7 linked regions of the Homo sapiens genome follow. The protein of the gene in region 3 interacts with the protein of the main gene of each other region in a pairwise test. Each region holds a gene or a part of one and is shown on either strand. Other genes may lie near its edges.

Region 1 (3,500 bases), on a different chromosome or scaffold from region 3:
TCAAGACCCATTTATTAGGGCCTCTCAAAGGAGATAAGAGAGAGAGTGGGAGAGAGAGAGAGTGGTGGAGGAAGTGGGGAAGGGAAGAAAAGAATCAAGAAATAGTCAAAGAAAGATATGCATTGTTGGATTAAAAGGATCTACACTGTGCGGATCATGATGAATAAATAAAGATGCTCCCTAGACATACCACAGTGACTTCAGACGTATCAGTGTAACTCCAGTGCACTAAAGGTAAAGAGATTGTGAAGGGCTCTAGGAATAAAGTAGATGGGATACTGTTTTGATTTAGAGGTATGATGACTCTTTGCTATCTTGAGGGGGTGGGGGGACAATCCGTCTTTGGGAAGGAAGTTAAGTGGAGATAGATTTAATATTGCAATATAATTTTACATTTTGAAAATAAAATGAATTCCTGTTGTTTTCTCTGCTTGGTTGCTAGAATTACATAAATATCCTTGGGGAATGATTGAGATTCTCTAAAATACATGTAGGATATTAATATTAGTCAAAGTGGGGTCTTTGAAATGTTGCATAGTCTTTCTTTAGATGTTAGCCCTGAAAGGGCTTCGCGGTCATCTATATTTGCAGCCCTTTTCTCCCTGAGGCCAAGACCTTGTTTACCACCTCGCAGGACAGTGCTAGGACTAGTGGTTGAGATTTCCTTTTGAAGTCCAGGGCTCTCTGTGGGATGGTTGACAATTCTTTTGGCCTTGATGGCTCTGTTTAGGCTTGTTGATGGGGTAACAGGATTGTGCATTTTTTTCCCTGAGCAAGAAGGCATGCCATTTAACCTGGATAATGTTTTTAAATTAGCAGAAAGAACAGATGATTAGTTTTATTTCGTATTAAGGTTGAATTTGCAAGGGCCTGCTTATTGGTAACTTGATAACCTTGATTAACTGTACGGATCACTGGAGCGCTCAGAGTGCGTGTGGGTTTGTTATGGAACAATTAACTAGAGAACACAAGCTCGGGTTCCTTAGTAAAGGACTCCTTGTGGTGAGAAATAATGATCAGTCTTACTGATTACTATTTATGTAAGGGTTTTTCTCTTTATTTAGCTTAGAACACCATACTTTATTGAATGAAGGGATTCCGAGTTTCTATTCTTTTCCATTTTAACTGCCTCAACTTTTCTTGTGTGATTTTAGGGGGCAGAGCCCACCAGTTGCTGAATTTAACTTGCTCCTGAAAGCTCACACTTTGGAAACCTACGGGGTGGATCCTCACCCATGCAAGGTAACTGCCCCTCACAGCAGGTCACCATATAATGGTTGTTTTGCCCAAAAGAGAGTTTATCTGTGCGCAGGCCTGGCAGAGCCTTGTTAAATCTTTCCCACAGCTTGGCCCACGGTCCCTCATTGGAAGGGACAACAGTGGGCTGCTGTTACATGTTTTGGCAGCTGATTTTCTCCATTGGAGTCTTCCAATTGTTCATTGATTGCCATGTAGTAGCCATATTTTCCTAAATTAACATCCATGGATTCACTCATCAAATGGATGGTTTGGCCCCTGAGGAGTTACAGGCTCCTGACACATTTACTTTCAAGGCCATTGCCAGCAAGAATGGAGTCTTTAAAAAATGGGAAAGTGGAAGGAAAAAAAAGAAAGATTTCAAGTTGCATTTTGGCATTAGGAACACTTGTTTTTATTTTTTCCTTTACTCATATTTGACAGTGTTTCTCTCAAGGATGAAACACAGACTACTTATATCAGAATCTCCTGGACCTCACCCCAGAGCTACTAAATCAGAATTCTGGGGGTACAACTGGGGAATCTGCCTTTTTAATCAAGCTCCCAAGGTGTGATACTTATAGATACATTTTCCAGAAATGTTTCACTGAAGCAACGTTCTTCTTTCCATATATTAGACTATGCATCAGCCAGACACTAGTCCTAATCCTAAACTAAGCATTTTATCAGTTAGGCTCTTAAGTATAAGTTTTGGAGTTTTAGTGGCAAATTTCTTTACCCAGATTGGACTGCCTAATCTTATTTGGCAAAGCATTAGTCCTATAGGTCTCAGCTTGGGCTGCTCATTAGAAACACCTGGAGAGCTTCATTAGCACCTGCTGACCAGAACACATCCCACACCAATTACGTCAGGATCTGCTGGGGAGGAGGGCGGGGCGGGGCGCAGGGCGGCGGAGGGGGAGTGGTGGGTGCGGCGACCAGGCTACCCAGGTGTTTCCAATGTGCAGCCAAGGCGGAGAGCCAGGGGTACTTGTCCATACTAGCATTTACATCCTCTTGTTCTGCCTACGCAAATGTTGGAATATTTACCAGCGGCTCTTTCCTAGAATGGTACTAATCAGTTTATTCATTTTAGTGAATTTTATGCAGAAATTTGAACTGTATTTTATTTATTTCTTGGAGACTGACTTGATCTTTGTGTTGTTATTCCTTTGCCTTCACTTATCTACAAGATGCTTAGTTTTCCTGGTCTAGGCTGGAAGCACAGTAAGCTTTTCTGGAGATATTTTTATACTGAAATTTCCAGAAATCCTGTGAGAGATTGAATCAAAATTAGATGCTCAGGGCTTTGGTTTCATCACGTTAGAGTGCTAATGGCAAGCAAGAACAGTTTTCTCACATTACAAAGCAGACCTAGAACACAGGCAGCCCCGGAAGACACTGGGAAGTAGACATAGTGATTTGGGACTAATTCATATTTTTCCAGGAGGTTCCTAGAGGGCAGAAGGTCCGCTCCTCAAAGGGAAAAGCTACATATTCCTGAACTTCACCCAGACTTTGAAAGGCCTGCTCTTAGAAGTTCCATCTCAGAAACTTAGTTTATTGCTACAATCATTGGGATTAGTCTAAAATTAACCTAGGGTGAGGATGAATAAATATATTGGTTATCATTTATTTTATTTTTCTCAATCTAAACAGATTTTTCTTTTTTCTTTTTTTTTTTTTTCAGGATTCAACAGGCACAACAACATTTTTAGGATTCACAGCTGCAGGCTTTGTGGTCTTTCAGGGAAATAAGAGAATCCATTTGATAAAATGGTAAGTGCCTCTTTGGAAAACTGGCTTTCCATTTTTCTTAATCTTGATTCCTCCGTCCCCTCCTTGGCTTCTCGGGCAAGTGTCAGGTAGAATGCCTGGTATCCATTTCCTTGCCTTGGAGCTTCATCATAAAGGGATGTAACATCTAGGTTGCCTTTGGTGGGGACTTGGATTTGCCAAGCTGAGGAGTCAACTTAGGAGGCGTGGGCTCAGGGGCTCTGCCTTCAAAGAGAAGGTATCCAGTGTTTCCTCACCAGTAGCTTCTACTGCTGTGGCCAAGGGGGGCACACGGATGGGTCAGGGCAGGGTAAAGGTGTGAGTTCCCATGAACAACTCAGGATCCACTCTCCCCAACTCACTTCTTTCCACTCTTCTCCTCTGTTGAGTCCTGGGTGCAAACTCACCCTTTGTTATCCAGTGTATCCGTGAAGATGCTTTTGGCAAAAGGTAGTAGGAATGTCTACTCATGATGGCTTACAAATAAG
Region 2 (4,157 bases), on a different chromosome or scaffold from region 3:
ATGTCTTCTTGAATCTACATAATTGAAACATTAGGGTGGCTCTTTTTCTCTTCATTTGTCTAAAGGAATTTGCCTGTGCATTTTGCAGTAATAGTTACGTATTTTATTTGATTAATTACCTGAAGTCAGCATCCTGGTCATGGTTTATTCTTTTTTGCTACTGTTTTTGAATTTTCAAAGACAGCTTAATTTTGCAAAGATTTTTTTTCCTCCAGTCAACTACTAGAATCTACTAAACTATTAAAATCTCTACTGCTACAGAAAGCATTCATTTTTTAAAAAATCAAAGCCTTAGGAGAAATATTGCACAAATTATAGAAATCCCCTATCTTTTCACTAGCTTTATAAGCCATATAAAATATTGCAATGGAGAAAGAAAAAGAAACACATTTAGTAAGGTCAACATAACCTCCATTATTTATCCAGGACCCAATTTTATTTTGTGCTTTAAAGCCAATATTTTGTGTGTTCTATTACTACAATGTAACTTTTCCATTACTTTTTGTCCTATTAGTATCAACTTACTTTTAAAAATTTAATAAAATGTTAAAGGAACCTACTACAGAGTTTCTCAGAATTAGAGTTCCATTTTTGAAAAGATAGCCATGCATTTCTAAAATACTGCACCAATTCTATTAAAGTAATTTTATTTAATCTGCTTTTATGTTTAATTATATACAATTAGTGGAAAATATGTTGCCATTTAATTACACTGTCATCTTCCCCACCCTGCTATGATCTGTTTCCTTCCAATGAGTACTGATAGTTCTCTTATGCTGGTTTTGATTAAGCTGTGTCTTAATTAAAGCTGTCATTCTAGGAATCCCAAAAGTGGAAGTTATCTTTGTAGCATAAACTTTTTAAAAAAAATTTTATCCATGCAACTACTTCCAAGTCCTTTTCTTCCTTTCCGCCTTCTCCAAACTTCCTAACATTTCTGCTGTGGGTCAGAGATCAAGGGCTCTCCAAGCTAGTATGGAAAGGGAAGAGGGGGCCTTACCTTCACAATGTAGTCAGCCACCCGGCTGTATTTGTAGCGAATGAAGACGCCCAACCCGATAGGTATGAGAGTGCTGCAGAGAGTCAGGGTCACGGTCCCTAGGGGTAGTAACTGCACGATAGGGGTGTTGATCCAAGCCCAGCTGTAGATCCACAGGCACAGGGGCATCAAGACGAGGGCCAGAAGCGTGGAGGAGATGGTCATGATGATGCTGCAGAAAAGGGAATGTGCAGAAATCAGAACGAGCTTTGAGTCAAACAGCCAGCTAACCTTTTTCTTGTATGTTGAGTAGAGGTGGAACGGGGAGACTGCAAGTCCCGGGGTTGAAGTCTGGGCAGAACCTACATCCGAGGAGAGTGCCAAGAGAGCAGCACGTCTAACACCGATGGAATTATGAACCCAAGGCAGGGAGGAAAAACAAGCCCCCTGTCTCGGTACTGCTGCCCTCGACATTATAAAGTCTATTGAGCCTGGATGATTCTGAGGGGAAGGAACGTTCTTCCTTGCAAGCCCCCTGCAAGGTAAGCCATGGTAAAGCTGCTGACTGCTACTTGTTGGTCGGACTCAACAATCCTGCACTCTATGTGAGATTACTTTCTCTGACGGGCCAGTAGCCCTATTTTACTTTTACGTTGCCGGCGAGTTCTAGTTCAGACTCCCCCTTCTCTTTGTCTTCCACTGGACAACGACCTGCGCTGCCACCCCGACGCTCGGGGAGGACGGCGAGGGACCCTGCTGAAGGGCCGCGCTGCGCATGGAATCCCAGCCTTGGAGCAGCTCCCTCGCCGTCTAGCTTGCTCCCCTAGCAGCACAACCTGCAGGTCGGCCTTGACTTCTAAAGCCGGGGCGTCATCAACTTCCTCTCCTTTTCTCCTCCTTCCTCCACGCCTAATTCCAACCCCTCCACTGCCTCTGTCCTTCGTCGTGAGCCCACGGCCGTAAACGCGCGTCTGGGATGAGACAGATGCCCAAGGAATAGACAGATCCGTACCTGAGGTTCATGTCGCCGTCAACCAGCAGGGACATAAGATTGGAGAGATTGCCGCCGGGACAGCAGCCACACAGGAGCACCGCCACGGCGGCCACCTCGTCCAGCTTGAAGGCGAGGGCCAGCAGGAAGGCCAGCAGCGGCAGGAGGCCGAACTGGCAGAGCGCTGCCAGCAGCGCGCCCACGGGCCGACGGACGTGCGCCCCGAAGTGGTTCACGTCCACCGTGCAGCCCAGGCCCAGCATGGTGATGCACAGGGCGGCGCCCACGAACACGTTCAGCCCGTGGTTCAGCGGCGTGTCCCAGAACGGGAGCGCGTGGGGCGCCCAGGGCCGAGGGAACGGGGAAGGGCCGTGGCTCGCCGCGCCGCCCGCGAGGCCGCTGGTCGTGGGCTCCGGGGTCGGAGTGGGGCCGGGGCTGAAGCCGAAGCTCGGACCCGGCCCGAGGCTGAGCCCAGGGCCGGGGCCGGCGCTGGAGGCAGGGGCGAGGGCGAGGTCCGTGCCGGGGCCCAGGCTGCTGGCATTGGGCGCCAGGGTGTAGTTGTCCCGCAGCAGAGGGGCGAAGAGCAGGGTCACGTTGTCGTTGCCGTCCATGGCGCGGCCGGAGCTGCGGATTCCGGTCCCCTCCCGCCGCGTGCCTCTCGCCGTCCCGCGGTCGCCGCAGTCGCCGCCCGTCGTTCTGCCCGTCGGTCTCCGAGCCCCGGCTGCGCGCCGCTGACGTGCTCGGCGGCGTCGGGGGCGGCGGGCCGGTCTCCGCTCCCAGGTCTGCAGCCGCCCGCAGCCTGGCACTCCGCGCAGCGCGGCCCCCCGGGTGAACCCAATCGCTGCGCCGGCTCCGCGCCGCGGCCCCGCGCCCCGCAGGCCCCGCCCCGCCCTGCCGCCCGGTCCCCTCCTGTGAATCGCCAGTAAGTGGTTCTGTTATCGAGTGTAGCCAGGGGCGGAACAAAGACCTGACAAAGGACCAGAGCAGGAAAAAACCGTTCCTGGCTGCCGATCAAGTTCTCTGATGGGCTCTGCCTCTTTATAATGAAATCTGGAGACCCAGACACACAAAGTGGAGGGGGCGGGTGGATAACCTCATCGATGCACGCTCATGGCAGAAACTGTTCCTATAGCCTGCAGCCCTAAGAGGGGTGCTTGACTTAATATGAGCGATTCTCTAGTAAGCAGGACACGATATCTGGCTTGAATTTGCAAACAATTTTTTGCATGATTTTCAGTCTTAAAGTAGAATGTAATAATAATATAGCGGGTTTTGTGCAAGTGCGTGTGCATTATTTCATTCGATTCTTACAGCAAAGCCGTGAGATAGATACCATTTTTACAAGCTCGATTTTTACAAACGAGGAAACTGAGGAACGAGGAATTCTCAGTCTTATCAACCGAACCCACAAGTACCTGGCTGAATCTGCACGGCGATGTGTCCCTAAAGAGGGCAGAGAAGAGCTTGGCTAATAACAATTTCCATGAAAAATGTGTGTTTAAGAAGTTATTGGCAGGTGGAGAGAGGATATTTCAGTGGCCACAGATTTACGAAGCTTTATGAGTAAGGCCCTGGCATTAGGATTAAAGGACTGAAAAGAAATAAAGTGCTGAGATTCCCTGCTTGAGACAGGTTTATCCCAAAACAATTCAAAAGCAGAGCTCTTAGGAATGGAGATGCAACAACTTTTAAGTCAGTCACTAGATGGCATGTAGAAAGGAAAATAATTTCGCTGCTTACCAACCAGGTGGGGCCTGTTAAGGAGGCATCTAGCTCCCTGGGGGTGACCATAAAGTGATAGTCAGTTGAGTTGTAAAAACCAACAGGAATTTCTAGAATGAAATCAAGGCTCAGTCTTAGCCCAGGGTTGCTTTCACAAGGAGCCAAGATATAGTGAATTCTTCTATCTGGGAACTTTTCCCTAACTCCTGTCCTGGCACAGAGTGACTTCTATTACCCAAGGGTGGGCTGAGCCTTTCCTCCTCCCCAAATCTCATGAAGATGATGGAGACTATGAAAAGTAAGACTTTGCAAATGCAAAGCATATTGCACTCTTCATCACAAATAATTTATTTTTTCTCTTTTGGACTGTAAATTCCACGAGGGCAGAGCTTTTGCAAGAATCTAGGAGGATAATGTACCCTTACACTTTTCCAAAACACTAAACCCAGAAAAAAAAACTTCAGT
Region 3 (3,500 bases):
TGTATGTTTAAAATTCTCCGTAATAAAATGTATTTTAGCAACAACAAAAATGAGCCTTTCTAGGACCATGCAAAAGCTTCTCATTAACTCTTTCAGGTAACAGATTTCAGAATATAAAAGAATTCATCCAGGGACTTCAAAGTGTTTACCAACATCCTAAATTGAGCCATTTGTTCCCTGTCCCTCATTAATCCCTTCTTGTGTCTCCTGCTCAGGGAGTTGAGGAAAAGATTCTTTTTTCTCATGTACAGAGGAGACTCAGGGCAGGATGTTACTGGAAGTTATACACATGAACTAACTCTTGGCCCACTCATCATGGAGTTCAGGTTAACCCAGCCAGGGTGTCTAACTGGTAGTAATTTCATTTTGATGTTTTCTTTCTCCAGATTGTGGATGACTTTTTCATTGGCCGCTATGTCCTGCTGGCTTTCCTTAGTGCCATCTTCCTTGGAGGCCTCTTCTTGGTTTTAATCCATTATGTTCTGGAGCCGATCTATGCCAAACCACTGCACTCCTACTGACCACTCTTCAGGAAAACGAAAACCTGTTCTCTCCTTCATTGTGATGACATTGATGAGCAGGAAGGCACTATTCAGAGCCTTGTTTTGACAGCCCTCATGCCTTAAGGTTAGAGGAGTATCTGTCCATCACTAAGACAAATCTCTGGAGTCCTGGCTTCCAGAAACAGGATTGCCAAATTGTCCCTGTGGGGCTAGATTCTTACCAGCTTAAGAAGGATATTGCTATCTTCTTAGTACCCGTACCTTAGGATTTCCAACTGTTTTGAAAGGGAAATAGTAACAGTGATCTGCTTAGAGTGGATTTTCACTCAAGTCCTTAGTAAGTGGATTTTGGGGAAAAAAGCACCTGGGCTTCTGGTTCTTTTTGATAATATATAAAATTATTCATTATGAGGTTGCAGTTGTTTGCAAAGGAGAGGCACTCAAATTTGAAAGGTTATTTTAATGTGATAATTTGGAAGACTTACTCAGATGTTGGTCATTGACCACTCTGTGCATATATTTCTGCAGAGCTCTGTGAAGGCAATGAGTGTCACTTCCCTCTGCTCTAATAAAGCAATAAATAATAGCTAAAGGGCTGACTTTCACTTCGAACTCTTGGCCACGGCTTTTTAATCAAGTTCTTTAGGTTTCCTTGGGATTAGAGGAAAGGTATGGAAATATTGTTTTTTGTTTTTTGTCTTGCCATGTATCTGTAGGTTTTTTTCTTCCATGATGTGGTGGGCTGTGTGTGCCTTATTTAATTACCATGAGTCCATTTTGGGGTGTCTTCACTTTTCATCTTTGTAGCCCTTTCTCCAAAGCTAGTGAGGAAGGTATATTCTCAACATCAGATATAACTCTATACCTGTCTGATCTCCCAGACCAAATGAAATTTGCATTAAATGGAGGGGCCCTGGTCAGGTTCCACTTTGGAAGTCTGATCCTGACTCCCTAGAGCCATTTGAAAAAGAATCTTCTGGCTTAAAATTAAGAACCAAGAAAACAAGTTGGAAAGAGATCACTGATGGAGTATGTGCTCTATGCCAATAGCACACTAATTCCTTTGAGGTTTAATTTATTTAATTTTTACAACGGTCTCATTTTTATCATCCCCACTTTAAAGTAGAAAAAATGGAAGCTTAAAGAGATCAGCTGACTTGCCCAACCTTCACCTAACAGCCAGTGTGCAAACCCAGGTGTGGTAGGCCCCAGGGCTTGTCTCAGAGAGAAAACACACTAGGGTTTGTGGAACTCTGATTGAGAGCTTCAGGTAGGTTAAGGCCACACTGTTCCTTCACTTTCTCTCCTCAATTCTGTTTTCAGGGTAGAGAAGTTACCCAGTCCTGCCACCCCACAGGCAACTAAGCTCTAAATTCCAAGAAGAGAGAACAGGTAACCACTGAGAGTCATGGGCTGGTGAGGGCCAGGTATAGTTATCCCTACATTGAACCATTTCCTTTATCTTACTTAGTTTGGAAAAACTTTGCAGATAAGGCTTTGTACAGAAAACTTCAAAGGAAATAGTTTCCTAATCTGGCCTAGGGCACACAGGTAAGAAAAGAAGAAACATCCTCTAAGCAGATTGAGGGAGAGAAAAAAGAATGCATAAGTCTTGAGGGAATTGAGACAAGCTGGGGGCCTCATGCTATTGTGAGTCTCCCTGCAGCCCAAGTGGAAGCTTGGCTCCTAACAAGCACAAGCTGCCAATTGTTACCTTCTTCTGAGAGCCTTGCTAAAAAAGTAACTCTGGGAAAACTCTTATAGGTTCCTGACCATGAATCCATCTTTTTTATTCCCCCCAAAAGTTATTCAACTATTAGATCAATGGATAATAACTATGAGGTTTTGGGTGACTATTTAGATGGAGGAAAGTGTATTAAGGTTGGAAACTAAATTCTATCCTTAATACTACTGTTTTCTAATTTTTGTTTTTTTGCCTGATGTAAATGAAAGGCATATATGTTAAAGATTGGCTTTAGGAAAAAAAAAAAAATACCCTGTGCAAAGTTTATTTCAGCTTGACTTGACCTACAGTCTACAGACCTGGAGTCTATAATTACCAGCTGTGGTGAAATGAATGATAGATTTCTTTCTACCTGCATACTCAATGCAGTTATGCAAAAAAAGCCCCGCAGGGTTGGGATAAGACGTAGAAGGCTGAGAGGGCTCAAAATGGATTTCACTGAGAGTTTGGCATGGGATAACCCTATAGTCAATGTCTGTTATGGTACCCTGTATGCTCATGGCCTTCTTGGAGACAGGGCTCAGAGGTCATTCCTTAAATACAGACAGAAGTCATCTTAGTGTTCAGAACCATTCTGTGATCAGTGGCCTTAGAACATGTTCCCTCTACTGTTCCCTACCCAGAGGGGATCCTGTGGCAGACTGGTGATCCCCACTGTTTAGAAGGTGGAGAGGGAGAGTAAATCTGGGTTTCTATATAAGAAAATAGGTTATTTCGTGGCGTCTTAAAATTGTATCCTGACAAAAGCTGAATTAGGAGGATACCACCCTATCCCCACAATGGAGATCACAATGGGTAATTTGTTAAGTTCCTTAAATTTTTCACTGATAAAAATGGAAGTAAAGCTACCATTCTTTGTGTACAATGTAAATTTAATGTAAAACTGCATCAGAATTACCATACCAATGTCCAGGGACTAGGGAGTACATAGCCATTCATTCTCGAATCCTGCCATTCATTCAGCATATATTGTGTGCCCGTAGGGTGTAAAGCACTAGTCCTGGTGGAGTAAGCCCATGGAAGAACTAGGCTGTAAGGTGTCTAGACTGTCTTCCTCACTGCTTCCTGGAAGGAGGGCATCCAATTTATTTTTAAATGTTTTTATTCTAACATAAAGCAATCCATTTTTTGTTCTGTTATTTAACAGAAACTTTAGTATCAACTCTATTTCATGGTTGTTGCAGTTGAAGTGTTTCTGGTTTATTTTTTGCTCAATGTGTAAAGAAACCTGCTGTGATTATTTTACAGATGAG
Region 4 (4,036 bases), on a different chromosome or scaffold from region 3:
TTTGAGAATTTCAGGTTGAATACAAAATGCTTTTCTCTTCTTAGTTTTATTTTACCCAACTAACTTATTATTCTATCCTATGACTCCTGTGTTATCTCTTTAACGTCTTTTTCTTTTCTATGACTTTCTGTGCCTTGAGTATCCTGATAAACTTTAGAGAAGTGGGACCAGTATCCTTACCTTGAACTTGGTAAAGTCTTGGGAGAAATACGCCTCAATTTAGTCATTAAACACACACACCACACACACACACTTGTCAAAATCTGCAACTTTAATCCAAGACCAAGGAATCCTACTTTAAAAGGTCTGTCTCACCATAGGCTTTTTTTCTGTATTCCACGTGTACCAGTGATATAGGCAGAGAAATGTAGCAGATAAAGAAATGAATTTGGCTTCTGGAGCTTTTCTTTCATTTAAATACCACCTCTGTAATCTTAGACAAGTCACTAAACCTTGGTGCCTCTGTGTGAATTGGAAATAATTATATATCAACTCTTCACAAACCTAGAGTGCTATCGTGAGGATTAGGTCTAAAAGGCTCCTCACAGGTTTCTCATGCTTAAAGCACCTTTAATTATCCCTTTCTTAGTAATTGTATAAATCTCTAAGTTAATCCATTAAAGTCTAGTCATCATCTCTCTATTAGCAAGACCCAACTGGGCAGATAGTGTTGTTAGGATCATTGTGAGTCTCCCCAGGGTTCTTCCCCTTCCATTTCTGATTATGCTGTGAATATATTTCCAGAATTTCAGAGGGGTTTGCTTGCAAGCTAAAAGATCTTTGCAAAGGCTCAAAAAATACGGTCTGCTTCAGACAGAGAGAGGGTTTGCAATATGCGATGAATCTCTCAGTCCCATTAGAACCTTAAAGATGATGATAGCTCACATTTAATGTAATGATTAATGTGTACCAGGACCATTCCAGGCACTTTTGCATGTAGACAAATAATTCTCAGATTACTTACTGATTAATATCATCATCATCTCTATTTTACAAACGAGGAAACTGAGGCACAGAGAGGCTAAATCACTTGCCCAGGATCTGGAGCCAAGTAATGGTGATACTGATGCTTCCTTTTCTTTGCCGCGCTCGGATTCTGAGTTTCACAAGAATGTACCTGGGTGCCCCTTAGCGGGATATGAATAGCTTCTTCGGAACCCCAGCGGCCAGCTGGTGCCTCCTGGAAAGTGACGTCTCATCTGCACCGGACAAGGAGGCGGGGAGGGAGCGCAGAGCACTCAGCGTCCAGCAGCGCGGCGGGCCAGCCTGGAGCGGAAGCCTGGAGTGGAGCAGGCAGTCCGCGGGGGACAGACGTCGGCTGGGATTGAGCCGGCAGACTGCGAAAAGTAGCTGGAGCCGGAGCAGGGACAGAACCTGTTGCTGCAGACGGGCTTGGTGGATTCTGGTTCCTGCCGCCGACAGGGCTCGCCGGGAGAGGTAACAGCATGGGCCAGTTTGTCTGGGGGCCCCCGCTTGGGGGCGCGACCCCTCTCTAATGCCCAACGCTTGCCTTGATGACACATATTAGCGATTGTGGACCGACACCTTGGATTTTTCAAATCCCTTCCTAATTACACAGGCACCCGCTTGGTCACTGGCCCAACACTGGGGGGCTTCTCTGCCCTGGATGTCTGCACCACAGATGGCTGTGGCCCCAGGCTTGCAGAGCAGGGACCTGGTCAAGGGATGTGGGGCGCTTTCTTCACCTTAAAGTTCCCCCCAAGCCCTCTCCGGGGCTGTATTGTGTTGTAACTTTGTTGAATTTCCTTAGCGGGTCTGAAGCTAGCGAGTTTCTAAACTGTTTTTATCCGTGATGCTTCTAAGCAATGATCTTTGTGTATCTGAGGCTTCATCTTGTGCATTTCCACTTGCTAGAAAAGCTGAAATCAGGTTTCTGAGCTGCGTACAGGACACCAGAGTCCTTATTGAAGGCGTTTGGAGAGGTTTTATCCCCTTCTGGGAGTGAGATAGGGTTTCCAGACAATACCATTTTAGTTCTTCTGTCAAACCATCAGGCATTTTCCAACAGTGCCGCCCTAGGTCAAATTTAGGGTCTGGAGGAGAGGAAAATGATCTTCTTCAAGCTGTCGTTCTAGTTAAAGACAGAACTACTAACTAAAAACCAAAAATACATTTGTTCATCTCCCATTTCCCCTCAGCTATAGTGTAGATATTTGAAATATTTATTTCTTTTTAAAAAATCTTAATGATAACATGAATTATACAAAGATGCTGGTTTCCTTTTTTTAATCCAAATATTCAAAGTTGTTTTAAACATATGTCTAAATTTCTAATTCCATTCACATCCAAATAACTTTCAAGTGGGAACTACTAATGAGAGGAAGGATGGAAAAATCAATGGTTTGTAAACTGTGAAGGACATATTTTTGTTTCCATCTGGATTTCTAATTAAACCATAATAAATTGAGTAAAATTATCATAATAATGATGAATCTAAGTTATGGATGAATTTGCAAAATGGCTATAATGTGCTCAAAAATAGTGCCATTATCATCAACAGAATGGCAATTGTATGCAGAGTTCAATTAGAGTCTTTCATCTGTTAAAAACTTCTATAGATCGATCATTTAATAAAACAGTGATGCAATATAGTGCAGTAACAGTACCTACTGCACTATATTTAAAGGCACATATTAACATTACAGACTGGCTATTGTAATAATAAAAAAATGTGCTTTCTTTATTGCTTGAAAATAACATGTTACTCATATATCATTATCCTATTCTTTTTCTCAATATGTGTTTTTCCAAAATCCATACACCCCAATAAGATCTTTCTACTAGCCATGATTTCTTCATGTCTATAGAAAACTTCAGAGCATTTGAGGCTTAAGCTTATTTTTGCTTCATCTATCTGTTTGTCTGTTTCATCTGGCAGTTTTATTCTTGGTGCATTTTGTGAACACATTACAAAGTATCTAAAATTATATATTAGAAATTCATTGTTTTATTTGTATGATTATTTTATCCCATAGTTCCTATAAATCATACTGCTCACCAATACTCTCTTTTACAGATGTCAAAGACTATAGGTTGAATAAATATGAATTCACTATAAACCAATGAATGATTTCTTCCAGAAATATCAGTTTATTTATTGTAGTTGTTCTTCGGCTCTGTGTGTGTGTGTGTGCATGTGTGTGAGTGAGTGTGATTTTTTATGAGAATTCCATGCAAATGCCTCTGTGATAAATATTTATAAACCTTTTCACTGTATTGCATTAAAATGGATTTCCAGCTGTAACATGGAACACAAAATAAGGACAACTTCATGCCTTGAAGCTTCAGATACTTAAAAATAATAATTTTGTAAAATACTGCCCTCCTTATTATGGAAAAAAGGACATTGGTTTTAGCTAAAGACTTCAAAACTGTCAAGCACATTCAAAGAAAATGGAATAAATATAATCTCACATTCCTAAAACACATCTGGATTAGTCTATTCTCATGCTGCTATAAAGGACTGCCTGAGACTGGGTAATTTATAAAGGAAAAAGATTTAATTGACTCAAAGTTCTGCAGGGCTGAGGAGGCCTCAGGAGACTTACAATCATGGCAGAAGGGGAAGCAAACACGTTCTCTTTCACGTGATGGCACGAAGGAGAAACGCCAAGCCAAAGGGGGAAAAGCCCCCTATAAAACCATCAGATCTCATGAGAACTCACTCACTATCATGAGAATAACATGGTGGTAGCTGTCCTCATGATTCAATTACCTCCCACCAAGTCCCTCCCAAGGACACATGGGGATTACAAGAACTACAATTCAAGATGAGATTTGGATGGGGACACGGCCAAACTATATCAATATTTATATAGTATTTTAATAATCTTAACAAATTGTTCTCTTAAACATATGAATTTTATGCTTACCATTAACCTGATGTTAACAGCTGATTTTCTTTTCCTCTCTGTTTCCCTTTGATTTTAAGTTCCAGCTTTTTGGATAAGTTGGTTCTTAAATGAATTTTCCAATTGCCTTGAAACTGAACATTAAGGGTCCAGGGAGACCTTCA
Region 5 (4,008 bases), on a different chromosome or scaffold from region 3:
GGAGGTGGTCTCTGGAGATGAGGTGGGAAACAGCTCTCATCAGGGACTGCCCTGAGTGAATTCCACAGCTGAACCTGGCCTGAGTGTTAGGGTAGATGAAGGTGGGTCACCTAAGAATTTCCCCCCACACACAACCCAAAGTCAAATTCTGCCCCAGAGGTAAGATCAGGCCTGAGAGGGCTGAACCATCTCAGGGACAAGGCAAATGAGAGAGGAAGGCCGTAGGGAAGGGCTTCTCTCCTACCTCCCACGTCTTTATCTGTCCAAATCCTTGCTATTTCCCAAGGCCCCTCTCGGTTGCGTTCTTCTGCAGGGGATTCCCCCCACTTCTACTTCAGGAAACAACCCATGCTTCCTTTGAGCAGCTCACATCTAAGCGTACGCTCTGTGCCAGTCCTTAGGTAAAATGTTTTACTTTGTGCCGGGAGCGGTGGCTCACGCCTGTAATCCCAGCACTTTGGGAGGCCAGACGGTCGGATCACCTGAGGTCAGGAGTTAGAGAGCAGCCCGGCCAACATGGTGAAACCCCGTCTCTACTAAAAATACAAAAATTAGCTGGGCGTGGTGGTGCACGCCTGTTATCCCAGCTACTCAAGCGGCTGAGGCAGGAGAATCACTGTAACGCGGAAGGCGGAAGTTGCAGTGAGCCGAAATTGCGCCACTGCACTCCAGCCTGGGTGACAGAACGAGACTCCGTCTCAAAAAATAAAAAATAAAAAATAAATGCTTTATTTTGATTATCCCATTTAAACCTAGAAAACTCTCTTGCTGCTTTGGGAGCAAAAAGCCTGCGCTCTGGAATCTAAGAAACGTGAATTCAAATCTGTCCCCTGCCATTGCCTTTGGTAAATCGCTTAACTTCTCTGAAGCTCAGATGCCTCAAACGACTTCTTCCCGCGGTGTGTGTCAGGGGAGGTTGGGGAGCTGGGGTTGTGAGCAGTGTGGGTCTAGCACACTGCAGACGCTCCGCAAACGGTCAATAAACGCTGAGGGGCCAAAAGCCACTCCTCAGGACGCGCGGCGGAGAGACCTAGCCTCACCCCAGCCTCGCCCCGCGCAGTTGTTTACAAGCGCTCGCGGCGGATGAGCTCATACGAGTGGCGGCGGCGGCCAATAGGCTTTGAGCCCCGCGGCCTGGAGACAGCCCTGGCCAATCGGACGGCGCGGAGGCGGAGCGGGGCCGGCCGGCATCGCGCGGCCGCACGTGCGCCACGAGTGTCTCAGCCGCTTCCTGTCAGCGCCAGGAGCGGGGATTCCCGGGGTCCCGGGCAGGTACCTGGACAGCGCAGGTCCTCGCAAGGCCGTTTCTCAGGGACGCCGGCCTCGCCACTGACGTAGCACCAGGGCCCGCGCGGGTCCTCGTCCGGGTTTCGGCAGTAACTGTGATTGCCGGCCCCTAAGAGAGGAGAGAAGGAAATGTGTGCCGGGGCTGGCACCGGGAACGCGGCCGCCGCCCGCCAGCCCCGGGGCCGTCCCCCGGAGGACACTTACCCGACACGGGGGCCGAGGCCAGCCCGCTCTGCGCGTCCAGCCAGTTGAGGCAGCGGAGGCCCGGCGCGGGGGAGGTCTGGTCCTCCCGGTACAGGTGGCCGTTGTCCCAGAAACAGCCTGTGAGGAAAAGAAGCCCCCGGACACAGAATAGCGGGCAGCGAACGGAAGACGCCCAGCGTGGCGGACAGGGGAGCCGGGACCACCCGGGCTGAACCTCAGCCTGGTTAGGGGACCCCGGGCCCTGCTGGGCCTCCCTCTCCTCTCGTGGCAACACCCCCACGCCCCACGCACCCCCCCCCCCCAACTCCACGCACACCTCAGGGTGTGAAGCCCCCAGCCTGTGCCTGTCCCCCAGTCAACGCTCAGAGACTGTTAGGTTTTATTTATTTTTGAAACCTGGAAAGCGCTGCAGAAGTGCAAAGCGTTGTTACTCTTGAACTTGTGACCACTTTGGAGGAGGAGATGGAGAGGAGGAGGCCTGGCTTAGGGTCCCTTTGAGGAGCTGGGAGTTTTGGGACGGGGGGCGCCCAGACGTGACATTTGTCCCTGTGTTGTAATGGCCACGTTACATAAACTCCGGTGTTTCCTCCTTCACGGATACGGCCACCTTCTGCCCGTTTAAAAGGCAAATACTCCCTCCCAGGAGAATTCTCCAGGAGCCTTGACTCCGTCAGGCAAAAGATTCAAGACAGCCTCAAACGGAGGAAACCGGCCTCATCGCTGACTGGATGAGACTCCAAGCTCCCACTCCCCTCTGCAGGAGAACCACAGAAGGAGGCTGGGGAAGGAGGACCACACCATGCAAAGGGCTTAGAAAGAACAGGACTTGGGGAGTAGGGGAGATGAACCCCCAAGCTCCATCCACTCATGAGCAAGGAAAGGCAGAGAGAAAGTGGCTTCTTGCCTTTGTTCTTAATGGCAAAGATGGAGCTGCAAGCCCCTGACAAGGAAAGGAGGGGTGGAAAAGCTTTCACGGGACAACAGAAACCGGCTAAACGCTTCGTTTCCTGTCATCCTGGCCCTGTTTGGGAAATAGGGGGCTTTACCCCTTCTGTTTCATGAAGTTGCTGCGGAAAGGAAAGATTGTAATCTCACCTCCAGATCCATAGGCTTCTGCTAGGAGCATGTTGCTGACGAGGAATGCTTGTACCCAGGCCAACAGCATCCTTGCCTCCTTCGTCTTGCAGGTGATTGAACGACCAGTGTTTAACCGAGGCCCCCTTGGCGGCGGCTCTGCCTCCCAGTCCCAGCCTTGCAGTCAGACCTGCCCTTGTTATGCTGTTCTGGTAAACAGCCTCTCTTTAGAACTGGGAGCTTCCCAGCTAGCTTGCTGCAGCGCGAGCTGTTTTTCAGCTGAAAGGCGCCCCCTGGGTCCTAAGCCTCCTAGGTCATGCAAAATCTAACTGAGCCAAGAAAGGAACTCAGCCAAGAGATATGCAGGTTGTGCTTAGCAGCCGATCAGTTTGAGACCTGCGAGGCCGCATCCCCAGGGTTTTTCATCTCTTCTGTTTCCATTTGTGTGAGTACAGAAAAAATAATTCTATCAAGGGGCATCATGGGATGTGGGAAATTATAAGCACTAAAACACAGAACAACTTAGGGAGCTATGCACCCAGGAGGAATTCATGACCACATAGGGGGGAAAAAATAAGAGTTTCTGGTGGGGAGTGGAGTAATAGTTTTTTTTTTTTTCTTTTCTTTTCTTTTTGAGACAGAGTTTCACACTGTCGCCCGGGCTGGAGTGCAATGGCACAATCTCGGCTCACTGCAACCACCTGCCGGGTTCTCGCAATTCTGCCTCAGTCTCCGGAGTAGCTGGATTTTTTTTTTCCCTCACTCTATAGGAAATCCATTTGCTGTAATTTATATCCATCATTAAATCTCACCATATCCATTTGACTTAGGCCTTTTGGAGTTAGGCAGAAGGGCCCTTCTTCCTGTTTGGCTGACAGCTCCCAGGCAGCCTCAGTAAACTGAGAGAGAGAGCAGAGTGATTCGTCAAGACTACCTTGTGACAGGGGCACACCACCACAACCCAGCTAATTTTTTGTATTTTTAATAGAGACGGGGGTTTCACTGTGTTGGCCAGACTGGTCTTGAACTCCTGACCTCGTAATCCACCTGCCTCGGCCTCCCAAAGTGTTGGAATTACAGGTGTGAGCCACCGCGTTCGGCCGAGTAACACTTTATACCCATCCTTGAAAAAGAAAAAGGGCCTTTATGAACACTGACACTTAAAAAAAAAAAAAAAAAAAAAAAAAAAAAAAAACAGTGTAACTTGGCCAGGGTCAAATCTGTCACATTGCTTTTTCTTACATTTGAGGTTTTTTGGGGTGTTGTATATAGTAGGACTATAGAAGGAGTATCTTTAGTTGAAAACACATGTTATGCAAACATGGAAAAATTTGCTCAGCTACATTGTAATAGTCTACCCTTTCTGCCAGCCCTAAATTGTATAGAGGAATTTAAGTAAAATGTTTGCTTTTTTTTTTTTCCCTCACCCTATAGGAAATCCAT
Region 6 (3,500 bases), about 63 Mb from region 3:
TACCCTCTGTGAGCTACTTGGAGACAGGGAGGGGGCGGCAATACCAGCTGTTGGCAGCTCTGTTCTGCCCCAGCCCAACTGCCACCCACGGTGCCCCAGCCCCCCCTCCTGTCCTATCGTGTCCAACCCTAATCTGAAGCTGGTGCTGTCAGCCACATGTCACAGGCACTGCTGACGCCCCGGACCCCTGCAGTCCACAGACCACCCCCCACCCCCAAAGCCCAGCCACCCCACCACCATGCTCCCTCACTCTCCACCCTTCTCCCTGCCTCCCAGAAGCTGAGCTCCGACTCCTCCTTGGAGAGAGAGTGGGATGATGTCACTTCCTGAGGGTGGGGGGAGGAGTAGGCACGACCCCGGCAGGCTAGCCCGCCAGCCCGCCAGGCCACAGCTCGCCAAGTGGCTGCACCGGGGATAGGGAGGCGGGCCGGGCGGACATGCGGGCTGGCCACCTGGCCCCACGCCCTCTCGCCCACCCTGGGGGCTATGCCCACTGGCCAAGGGAGACTTGGCTGCTTCCTCCCCGAATGATGCCGGGCTCCTCGGACACACATTTTCCCTGGAGCCGCCACTGGGGAGAGGAGGATCTGCCGCCTGCCCCGGACCAGGTGCCATGTAAGCCTCTACTGGCCCCCGGCGGGGGACAGCTGCCCACCAACTTGGTCCCCAGCCCCCTGCAGCAGTTTAGTGCAGAGCTACCCTGGAGCCCTTTATGGGTATCTCTGGGGACCTAGCTCCCTGTGGGGTCACCTCCCACCCATGCTGCTTCCTTTCTCTTTGGGATGCTAAGGAGTGAGGGCCCTGAGTTCCTGGGCACTCTTTCCTGAGCTTGCTTGGGGCTGATTTGAATTCAGCTACTTCAGAGAGTTGAAAATCCAGCTGGAAAAGCTGCATGGCTCAGGGTGGGCTTGGGAGGTATGGTTGCCAGGAGGGGTGTGACCCTGCAGGGCTTACCCCATCCTTCCAGCAGTGTGGGGTGGAAGGTGTCCCAAGCCCTACTCCTGACCCTGCACCTCAACCGTGCTCTTCCCTCCCTGGAGGCATAGCTGTGGTGGGGACTTCTGTCTGATGGGTTCAAAACCAAGTCATAGAGCACGCTCTTGGCTTCCAGCAAAGCAGGAAACTGAAGCCTTCATTCAAGAAATACTTACTGAGCACCTGCTCTATGCCAGGCACTCCTCACCTTCCATGTTTGTCAGTCCCAGCTGCCAACCATACAGGGTCCCTTGCCCCCACCTTCCCAAGGCCTTCAGCCTTCCTCCTGCCCTGCTGGGCTTTGTGCTGTTGGGTGGGCTTGTTCTTGGTCTGGGAAGCCCCTCCCTTGACTCCAAGGACAGTGTGCACTGGGCCAGGTCTAAAGATTATAGGGTTTGAGGGCTGGGCTGAGGGTCCCACTGATCCCATGAAGGAGGAAACGGGGTCTTTAATAGAGCTCAACAGTGACTGCTGGGGTAACCCCAGGTAGAAGCCGATCCCTAGTGGCCAGTACCAGTCTCGGGGGACAGGAGAGACTCCAGGGGGAAGGCTGAAGTCTGTGTCCTGCTGCTAAGGTCCTTTGTGTTGGCTCCTGCCCGGAGGTGGGTCAGCACTTCCAGTGGCCAGCTCCAAAAATGCCTGTGCTTCTGGCCACACCGGGGACTGGTCCCGTGGCCCAAGGAATGCAGTGGCCCTGGGTGCCTTCACCTCCTCAGGCAGCTATAAGGTCCTCTGCTTTCTTTCAGGAGGTGAGCACCAGGCCCACTGAGCCTCTGCAGAGCCACCAGCCATGCCCGGGATCGTGGTGTTCCGGCGGCGCTGGTCTGTGGGCAGTGATGACCTCGTCCTACCGGCCATCTTCCTCTTTCTCCTGCATACCACCTGGTGAGTCCCCAGGCCCGGGGCCACAGGCCTGGGTTTGGAGAGAAAGGTCTGGAAGGACGCTTTCTGGCCATTTGTTCCTCCCTGCTTGGGCCCAAGTCCCAACCCTGTCATGCCCCCAGCTGCCCGGAGGAGGTGCCTGAAACATCTAGCCCCTTAGGGCAATGACACCCCTGCTACCATTGCTGGACCTGACCCCAACACTGGGGGGAGTTGCTGCTACTGTCTCCCCATGGCTGACCCTGAGTCTTTTACTGGCCGCCCATGCCCTTCTAGGCATTCGATGCCAGGTGGACAATGGTCTTATGGAGGAGGTGCCTGCTGCCAGCCCTCCTTCCACTGAATCTGGGCTGGGGAAGGGCCTGCCTGCTAGTAGCATCTCGAGGTACAGGGGCCACCTGGCCTTGCTCACACGGGCGTTCCTGTGACAGGTTTGTGATCCTGTCCGTGGTGCTCTTCGGCCTGGTCTATAACCCGCACGAGGCCTGCTCCCTGAACCTGGTGGACCACGGCCGCGGCTACCTGGGCATCCTGCTGAGCTGCATGATCGCTGAGATGGCCATCATCTGGCTGAGCATGCGCGGGGGCATCCTCTACACGGAGCCCCGTGACTCCATGCAGTACGTGCTCTACGTGCGCCTGGGTAAGGGCCACCCACCCTGGGGTGCTGCCCCAGACAACTCCCACCTCTCCATTCACTCAGCCAGTATTTACTGCGCACATGTTGCGAGCCAGGCCCTGTTTTAGCACTGGGGTACAGCAGTGAACTAAGGCCTTCTGTAGCTTACATTCTAGACTAGGGGCCAGCAAACTGCAGCCTGAGGGCCAAATCCAGCCTGCTGTATGTGTTATTAAATAAGGTTTTAGGCTGGGTGTGGTGGCTCATGCCTGTAATCCCAGCACTTTGGGAGGCCGAGGCAGGTGGATCACAAGGTCAGGAGTTCGAGACCAGCCTGGCGAACATGGGGAAACCCCGTCTCTACTAAAAATACAAAAATTAGCCAGGTGTGGTGGCACACGCCTGTAATCCCAGCTACTTGGGAGGCTGACGCAGGAGAATCACTTGAACCCAGGAGGCAGAGGTTGCAGTGAGCCGAGATTGCGCCACTGCACTCCAGCCTGGGTGACAGAGCAAGTCTCCATCTCAAAAAAAAAGAAAATAAGGTTTTATTGGCACATATCCATTCAGTAAGGTATTGTCTCCAGCTGCTTTGCCCCTACAGCAGCCGAGTTGAGTAGTTACTACAGCGACTGTAGGACTCCCAGAGTCCAAGATATTTGCTCTCTGGCCCTTTACAGGAAAAGGTGCTGACCCCATCCTCAACCATGTGCATCTCTTCAAAGCATATCTTCCTTGTGATCCTTCTCAAAACAGGCCTTCTGCTTCCTGGGAACCCCCTCAGGAGTCTGGGCCAGCTCCCCAGAGGACCAGCCTGTGTCCTCTTCTTGGGCTTAGGTTGCAGCCCCTTCTGGTCATTTGTAGTGAACACTGCTCTTGTGCTTCTGTGCACTGGGCTAGGCCCTTTTTCCTGTGTTAACTCACAGGGAGTGGGTGTTATTGGTCTCCGTTTATAGATGAGGAAACTGGGGCCCAGGCCTAGCTCTCACACAACTAGTAAGCGTGTAAATGTCGGAGCTGGGAT
Region 7 (3,500 bases), on a different chromosome or scaffold from region 3:
CTGGTGAGGGAAAATACCTTTGGTGTATGACCCCTCACTCCCACTCCAGGGTAAAGGGAACATTTTCGGACCTTAGAGGTGGAACTGTCTTCCTGGGAACCATTCTCCACTCCCACCTCAGCTGCAATCCCAGGCAGCAGTGCAGCTATCACTCAGATCATGGACACAGCACCGTGGGCATGGATATGCCATGCTGGAGCCCTTAGATGCCCTCTAGCCACTCTGGAGCATCTTCCGATGGACAGTGGGGGAATCTGAAGGGGCTCGCTTGGTGCTATGGTCTTTCAGAGGCTCTGTAGTGCTCTGTGGGTGGACCCTGGGGGGGCCTGATCTCATTTGAGCTGATTTTCCATTACGCCTGAAGAGTTTCTAGGGGGCTGCCTCTCACTGGCAGAGTAGAAACACCCACTGGAGCCACCACACACATCCACCTGGCTTCTTAGACACCGTCAAGGAATGGTGTCTTCCTCAGTACCCCACAGCTCCCACACTGTCATCCCCCAGCCAAGGGCCATCCCTAGAAAAACTGGTTTACTGTTCCTAAGGAAACCATTGTCTATAGCCCTTAGCCTTGTGGTTTAGGCAAGAGGCCAGGTCAGGTGCCCTAGAGTGAGGCAGGGGCTTCAGCCAAAGTTGTGATCGCAGCTTCTGAGGCAGTTCCTCAGTGGAGTCAGAGTCCGCTGCCACCTGAGCTTTCCACCAGATCTTCTTTCCTTTCCTTGTGCTTTCCTCAAGCTGCAGGCTTGATCCCAGCCCACAAATATGAGAGAATTCTGGAAAGTGCCCTGAGAAATGGGTTCTGGGTTTTTTTTTCATTTTTATTTTTTTAAATGTCCCAGGCTGCCTTCCTGTCCTCCCATCCTGCATCCTGCTTTCTGTTCCCTGGATACCGTAGGATGGTTTTATTTCAGTTCATGCACAAATTAGTCTGGACACTGTGGAGTCATAACAAGAGTGGGATGGAGGTTCCAGGGCCAATCAGTTTCTTTGGAGGGAAGCTTGAGAAGTAGGTTAGAGCAATGCCCACAAAAGCCACTGCTTCTCCTTCCCATCCCCAGCAATGAGCTAAGAGCCAACCTCAGCCAGAGAGAGGGTCTTTGATCACAGAGGGTCAGTCAGTGGGATGTGATTAGTGGGTTTGGGGATGGAGTCCCAGGTAAACCAGAGGGCAAAGGGATCCTCTGAGTCCTGGCTTAAGGGAATGGGGTTTCAAGTTGAGGGTTGGGGACTTAGGGCAGGGGAGCAGCAAGGTGAGGAAAACAGAAAGGCTGGCATGGCGAGCATCCTTGGCAATTCAACCTGCATGCTGTTACACTAGCCCCCATTTCTGCCTTTGCTCAATCCAATGGCCAAAGTCAGTCTATCCTCAGCAGCACCTTCTGACACGATCCAGTGGTAGTGTCCCTCACCTGTGGCCCTCGGGGTGCTGTCCACTGTTTTTCACAGACCCAGCCACCCCCCAGCTCTGGCCCCTGGTTCTTCACACATACCCTGTCAGGCTGTAGGAATTGAACTCACTCTTGACTTTGGGAGGTTGACCAGGCCTTGGAGAGCTCCTTGTGGCAAGAGGTTGGGCTTGGTAGGCATCGTAGTAGTTGGAGCGATTTCTCTGGGATGAGCAGGAAAAGCAGAGGATGATTCCAGCTATCAGGGAGAACAGGGAAGAAATAATGCCCAAGTAAAGAGCCTCTCCAATCTCAAATTTCATGCTGTCAGGCACCAGTGGTGAGTAGAAGTCCCGTAGGATCCCATGAAGATTCCAGGCAACAGGAATGAATCCCAGGAGGCCTCCAAGGATGAAAAAGACTCCACCTGCTACCGCCACTCTGTCTTTGGCTCGGGATTCCTGGCAGAAGACTGTGCATCTCATGCCCACCACAGAGATAATGCAGGCCAGGGAGGAGATTGCACTGGATGTCACCATCATGGCCTGGGCAGCCTGGATGTCAGCGGGCAGGCCCAGAAGGGTGCTATAGATGTCACACTGGGTGATGCCTGTGCTGTGTGTGGCACATTCCATCCAGAGGCCCTTGGAGAAGCCAACTGCTGTCACAATGCTGGCACCGACATAAGAACTTGTTTTCCAGCTGGGGAGCAGCATGGCAACCAGTGTGCCCAAAAGCCCCAGAAGGCCTAGGATGTAGCCCACAAGTTGGAGGCCAAGAGAGGCCATGGCAGACCTCTCAGTAGAAGCGTCTTCAGGGACTGCTCCCTTGTCTTCAGGCTGAAGCTCTTGCTCCTTGAACACCTCTAATCCCTCATTTCAGAGTCTCTCTGCCAGGCTGACTTCTCTCCTCCTTACAAGTGTCTGTGGGTGGCCACAAGCAGCCTCAAGAAGGCATCTAGAAGACCTAAAAAAAATCCATAAACCAGATTAAATATTGACCAGAAGCTTATGAGAAACCAGAAAACGCTGGATGCCTTTTGACCTTTGTTATCTTTAGAAATAACACATGAGAAAGGAAAAAAAAAACAACTTTGAACGTGGAGCCAAAATGTCATCGCCTCCTGCGTAGGCACATGCCTTAGGTTGGCAGCTGGACAAAGCCAGGAGCCAGACAGGTGGCTGCTTTCCGGGAAGGTGATGATGGCAGTGGTGGTTGTGGTGGCTGTGTTAACTCAAGTGCTAGTCTCCAAGGCCTGCTGTTTAATACATTGCCAAGCAACAGTGCCATAGGGCCCCTCAATTGCAGACTGAGGCCAAACTGCAGACTACATCAGGAGGAACAGATCCTAGAATGTAGTCTTGGACTCCAGTTTGTTAGAGGCCTCTTGAATCTCCAGGGGCCTAGAGAGTAGTGGCCTAGCCCTGGATCATTCTGCCCATGGTGAAAATCTACTCCAGGGTAGATGGGGGTGGGCAGCAAAGCCTTCTGTCCATACTCTGAGAGTTCAGATCCTCCCAGCCATGCCCAAATCCCCCTCTGCAGCCTAGTCTAAGGCCTCCTGCATGTATAACATGCCCAGACATTTCCTGTCCAGTCTCCTAATAGATGCTCCCATCATCAGCCTCTTGGATGATGAGGGAGCACTCTGGAACAAGGGTTCCAGGACTGAGAGGGGGCCCTGAAATTCCCTGGGCCATCTGTTAGGGGGGACAAGAGTCTGCCACAGAGGAAAGGGAAACTGCTCTAGAATATAGGGCTTTGCATGAGGCAGGTATCTGAGTCAATGCTTTGGAATCTCAGAGCCATATAAGATTTTGCCGTGTTCAAGGAGCCCTCGGTGTTGCCAAGATTCAGGACACTAAGGGTCAAGGGCACACCTCCCCATTCTCTACAAGACCCTCTGATCCACTAATTTTTCTTTCTTTCTTTTTGAGACAGGTTCTCACTTTGGCACCCAGGCTGGAGTGCAGTGGCATGATCTCGGCTCATTGCAGCCTCGACCTCCTGGGCTCAAGTGATCCTCCTGCCTCAGCCCCACAAGTAGCTGGGACTACAGGAGCGCATCACCACACCTGGCTAGTTTGTGTGTGTGTGTGTGTGTGTGTGTGTGTG

The links.
Region 1: the proteins of TMEM218 (region 3) and FRMD3 interact in binary tests that used the Homo sapiens proteins (3 or more experiments, as listed by UniProt).
Region 2: the proteins of TMEM218 (region 3) and SLC10A4 interact in binary tests that used the Homo sapiens proteins (3 or more experiments, as listed by UniProt).
Region 4: the proteins of TMEM218 (region 3) and NPFFR2 interact in binary tests that used the Homo sapiens proteins (3 or more experiments, as listed by UniProt).
Region 5: the proteins of TMEM218 (region 3) and PIK3IP1 interact in binary tests that used the Homo sapiens proteins (3 or more experiments, as listed by UniProt).
Region 6: the proteins of TMEM218 (region 3) and DAGLA interact in binary tests that used the Homo sapiens proteins (3 or more experiments, as listed by UniProt).
Region 7: the proteins of TMEM218 (region 3) and CLDN2 interact in binary tests that used the Homo sapiens proteins (3 or more experiments, as listed by UniProt).

Annotation. Positions count from the first base shown.
Region 1 is NC_000009.12:83,311,402-83,314,901, reverse strand, and holds part of FRMD3 (FERM domain-containing protein 3), read left to right. Parts: intron 1-1,154; coding exon 1,155-1,242; intron 1,243-2,926; coding exon 2,927-3,015; intron 3,016-3,500. UniProt on the Homo sapiens protein: Putative tumor suppressor gene that may be implicated in the origin and progression of lung cancer.
Region 2 is NC_000004.12:48,481,986-48,486,142, reverse strand, and holds the start of SLC10A4 (sodium/bile acid cotransporter 4), read right to left. Parts: upstream 2,801-4,157; 5' UTR 2,582-2,800; coding exon 1,992-2,581; intron 1,212-1,991; coding exon 1,001-1,211; intron 1-1,000. UniProt on the Homo sapiens protein: Transporter for bile acids.
Region 3 is NC_000011.10:125,094,627-125,098,126, reverse strand, and holds part of TMEM218 (transmembrane protein 218), read left to right. Parts: intron 1-386; coding exon 387-521; 3' UTR 522-3,500. UniProt on the Homo sapiens protein: May be involved in ciliary biogenesis or function.
Region 4 is NC_000004.12:72,030,764-72,034,799, forward strand, and holds the start of NPFFR2 (neuropeptide FF receptor 2), read left to right. Parts: upstream 1-1,236; 5' UTR 1,237-1,437; intron 1,438-4,036. UniProt on the Homo sapiens protein: Receptor for NPAF (A-18-F-amide) and NPFF (F-8-F-amide) neuropeptides, also known as morphine-modulating peptides. Can also be activated by a variety of naturally occurring or synthetic FMRF-amide like ligands.
Region 5 is NC_000022.11:31,289,689-31,293,696, forward strand, and holds the start of PIK3IP1 (phosphoinositide-3-kinase-interacting protein 1 isoform 1 precursor), read right to left. Parts: upstream 2,801-4,008; 5' UTR 2,657-2,800; coding exon 2,587-2,656; intron 1,609-2,586; coding exon 1,492-1,608; intron 1,397-1,491; coding exon 1,277-1,396; intron 12-1,276; coding exon 1-11. UniProt on the Homo sapiens protein: Negative regulator of hepatic phosphatidylinositol 3-kinase (PI3K) activity.
Region 6 is NC_000011.10:61,718,391-61,721,890, forward strand, and holds part of DAGLA (diacylglycerol lipase-alpha), read left to right. Parts: intron 1-346; exon of another isoform or gene 347-615; intron 616-1,721; 5' UTR 1,722-1,765; coding exon 1,766-1,860; intron 1,861-2,288; coding exon 2,289-2,500; intron 2,501-3,500. UniProt on the Homo sapiens protein: Serine hydrolase that hydrolyzes arachidonic acid-esterified diacylglycerols (DAGs) to produce the principal endocannabinoid, 2-arachidonoylglycerol (2-AG).
Region 7 is NC_000023.11:106,926,902-106,930,401, reverse strand, and holds part of CLDN2 (claudin-2), read right to left. Parts: intron 2,352-3,500; 5' UTR 2,174-2,351; coding exon 1,481-2,173; 3' UTR 1-1,480. UniProt on the Homo sapiens protein: Forms paracellular channels: polymerizes in tight junction strands with cation- and water-selective channels through the strands, conveying epithelial permeability in a process known as paracellular tight junction permeability.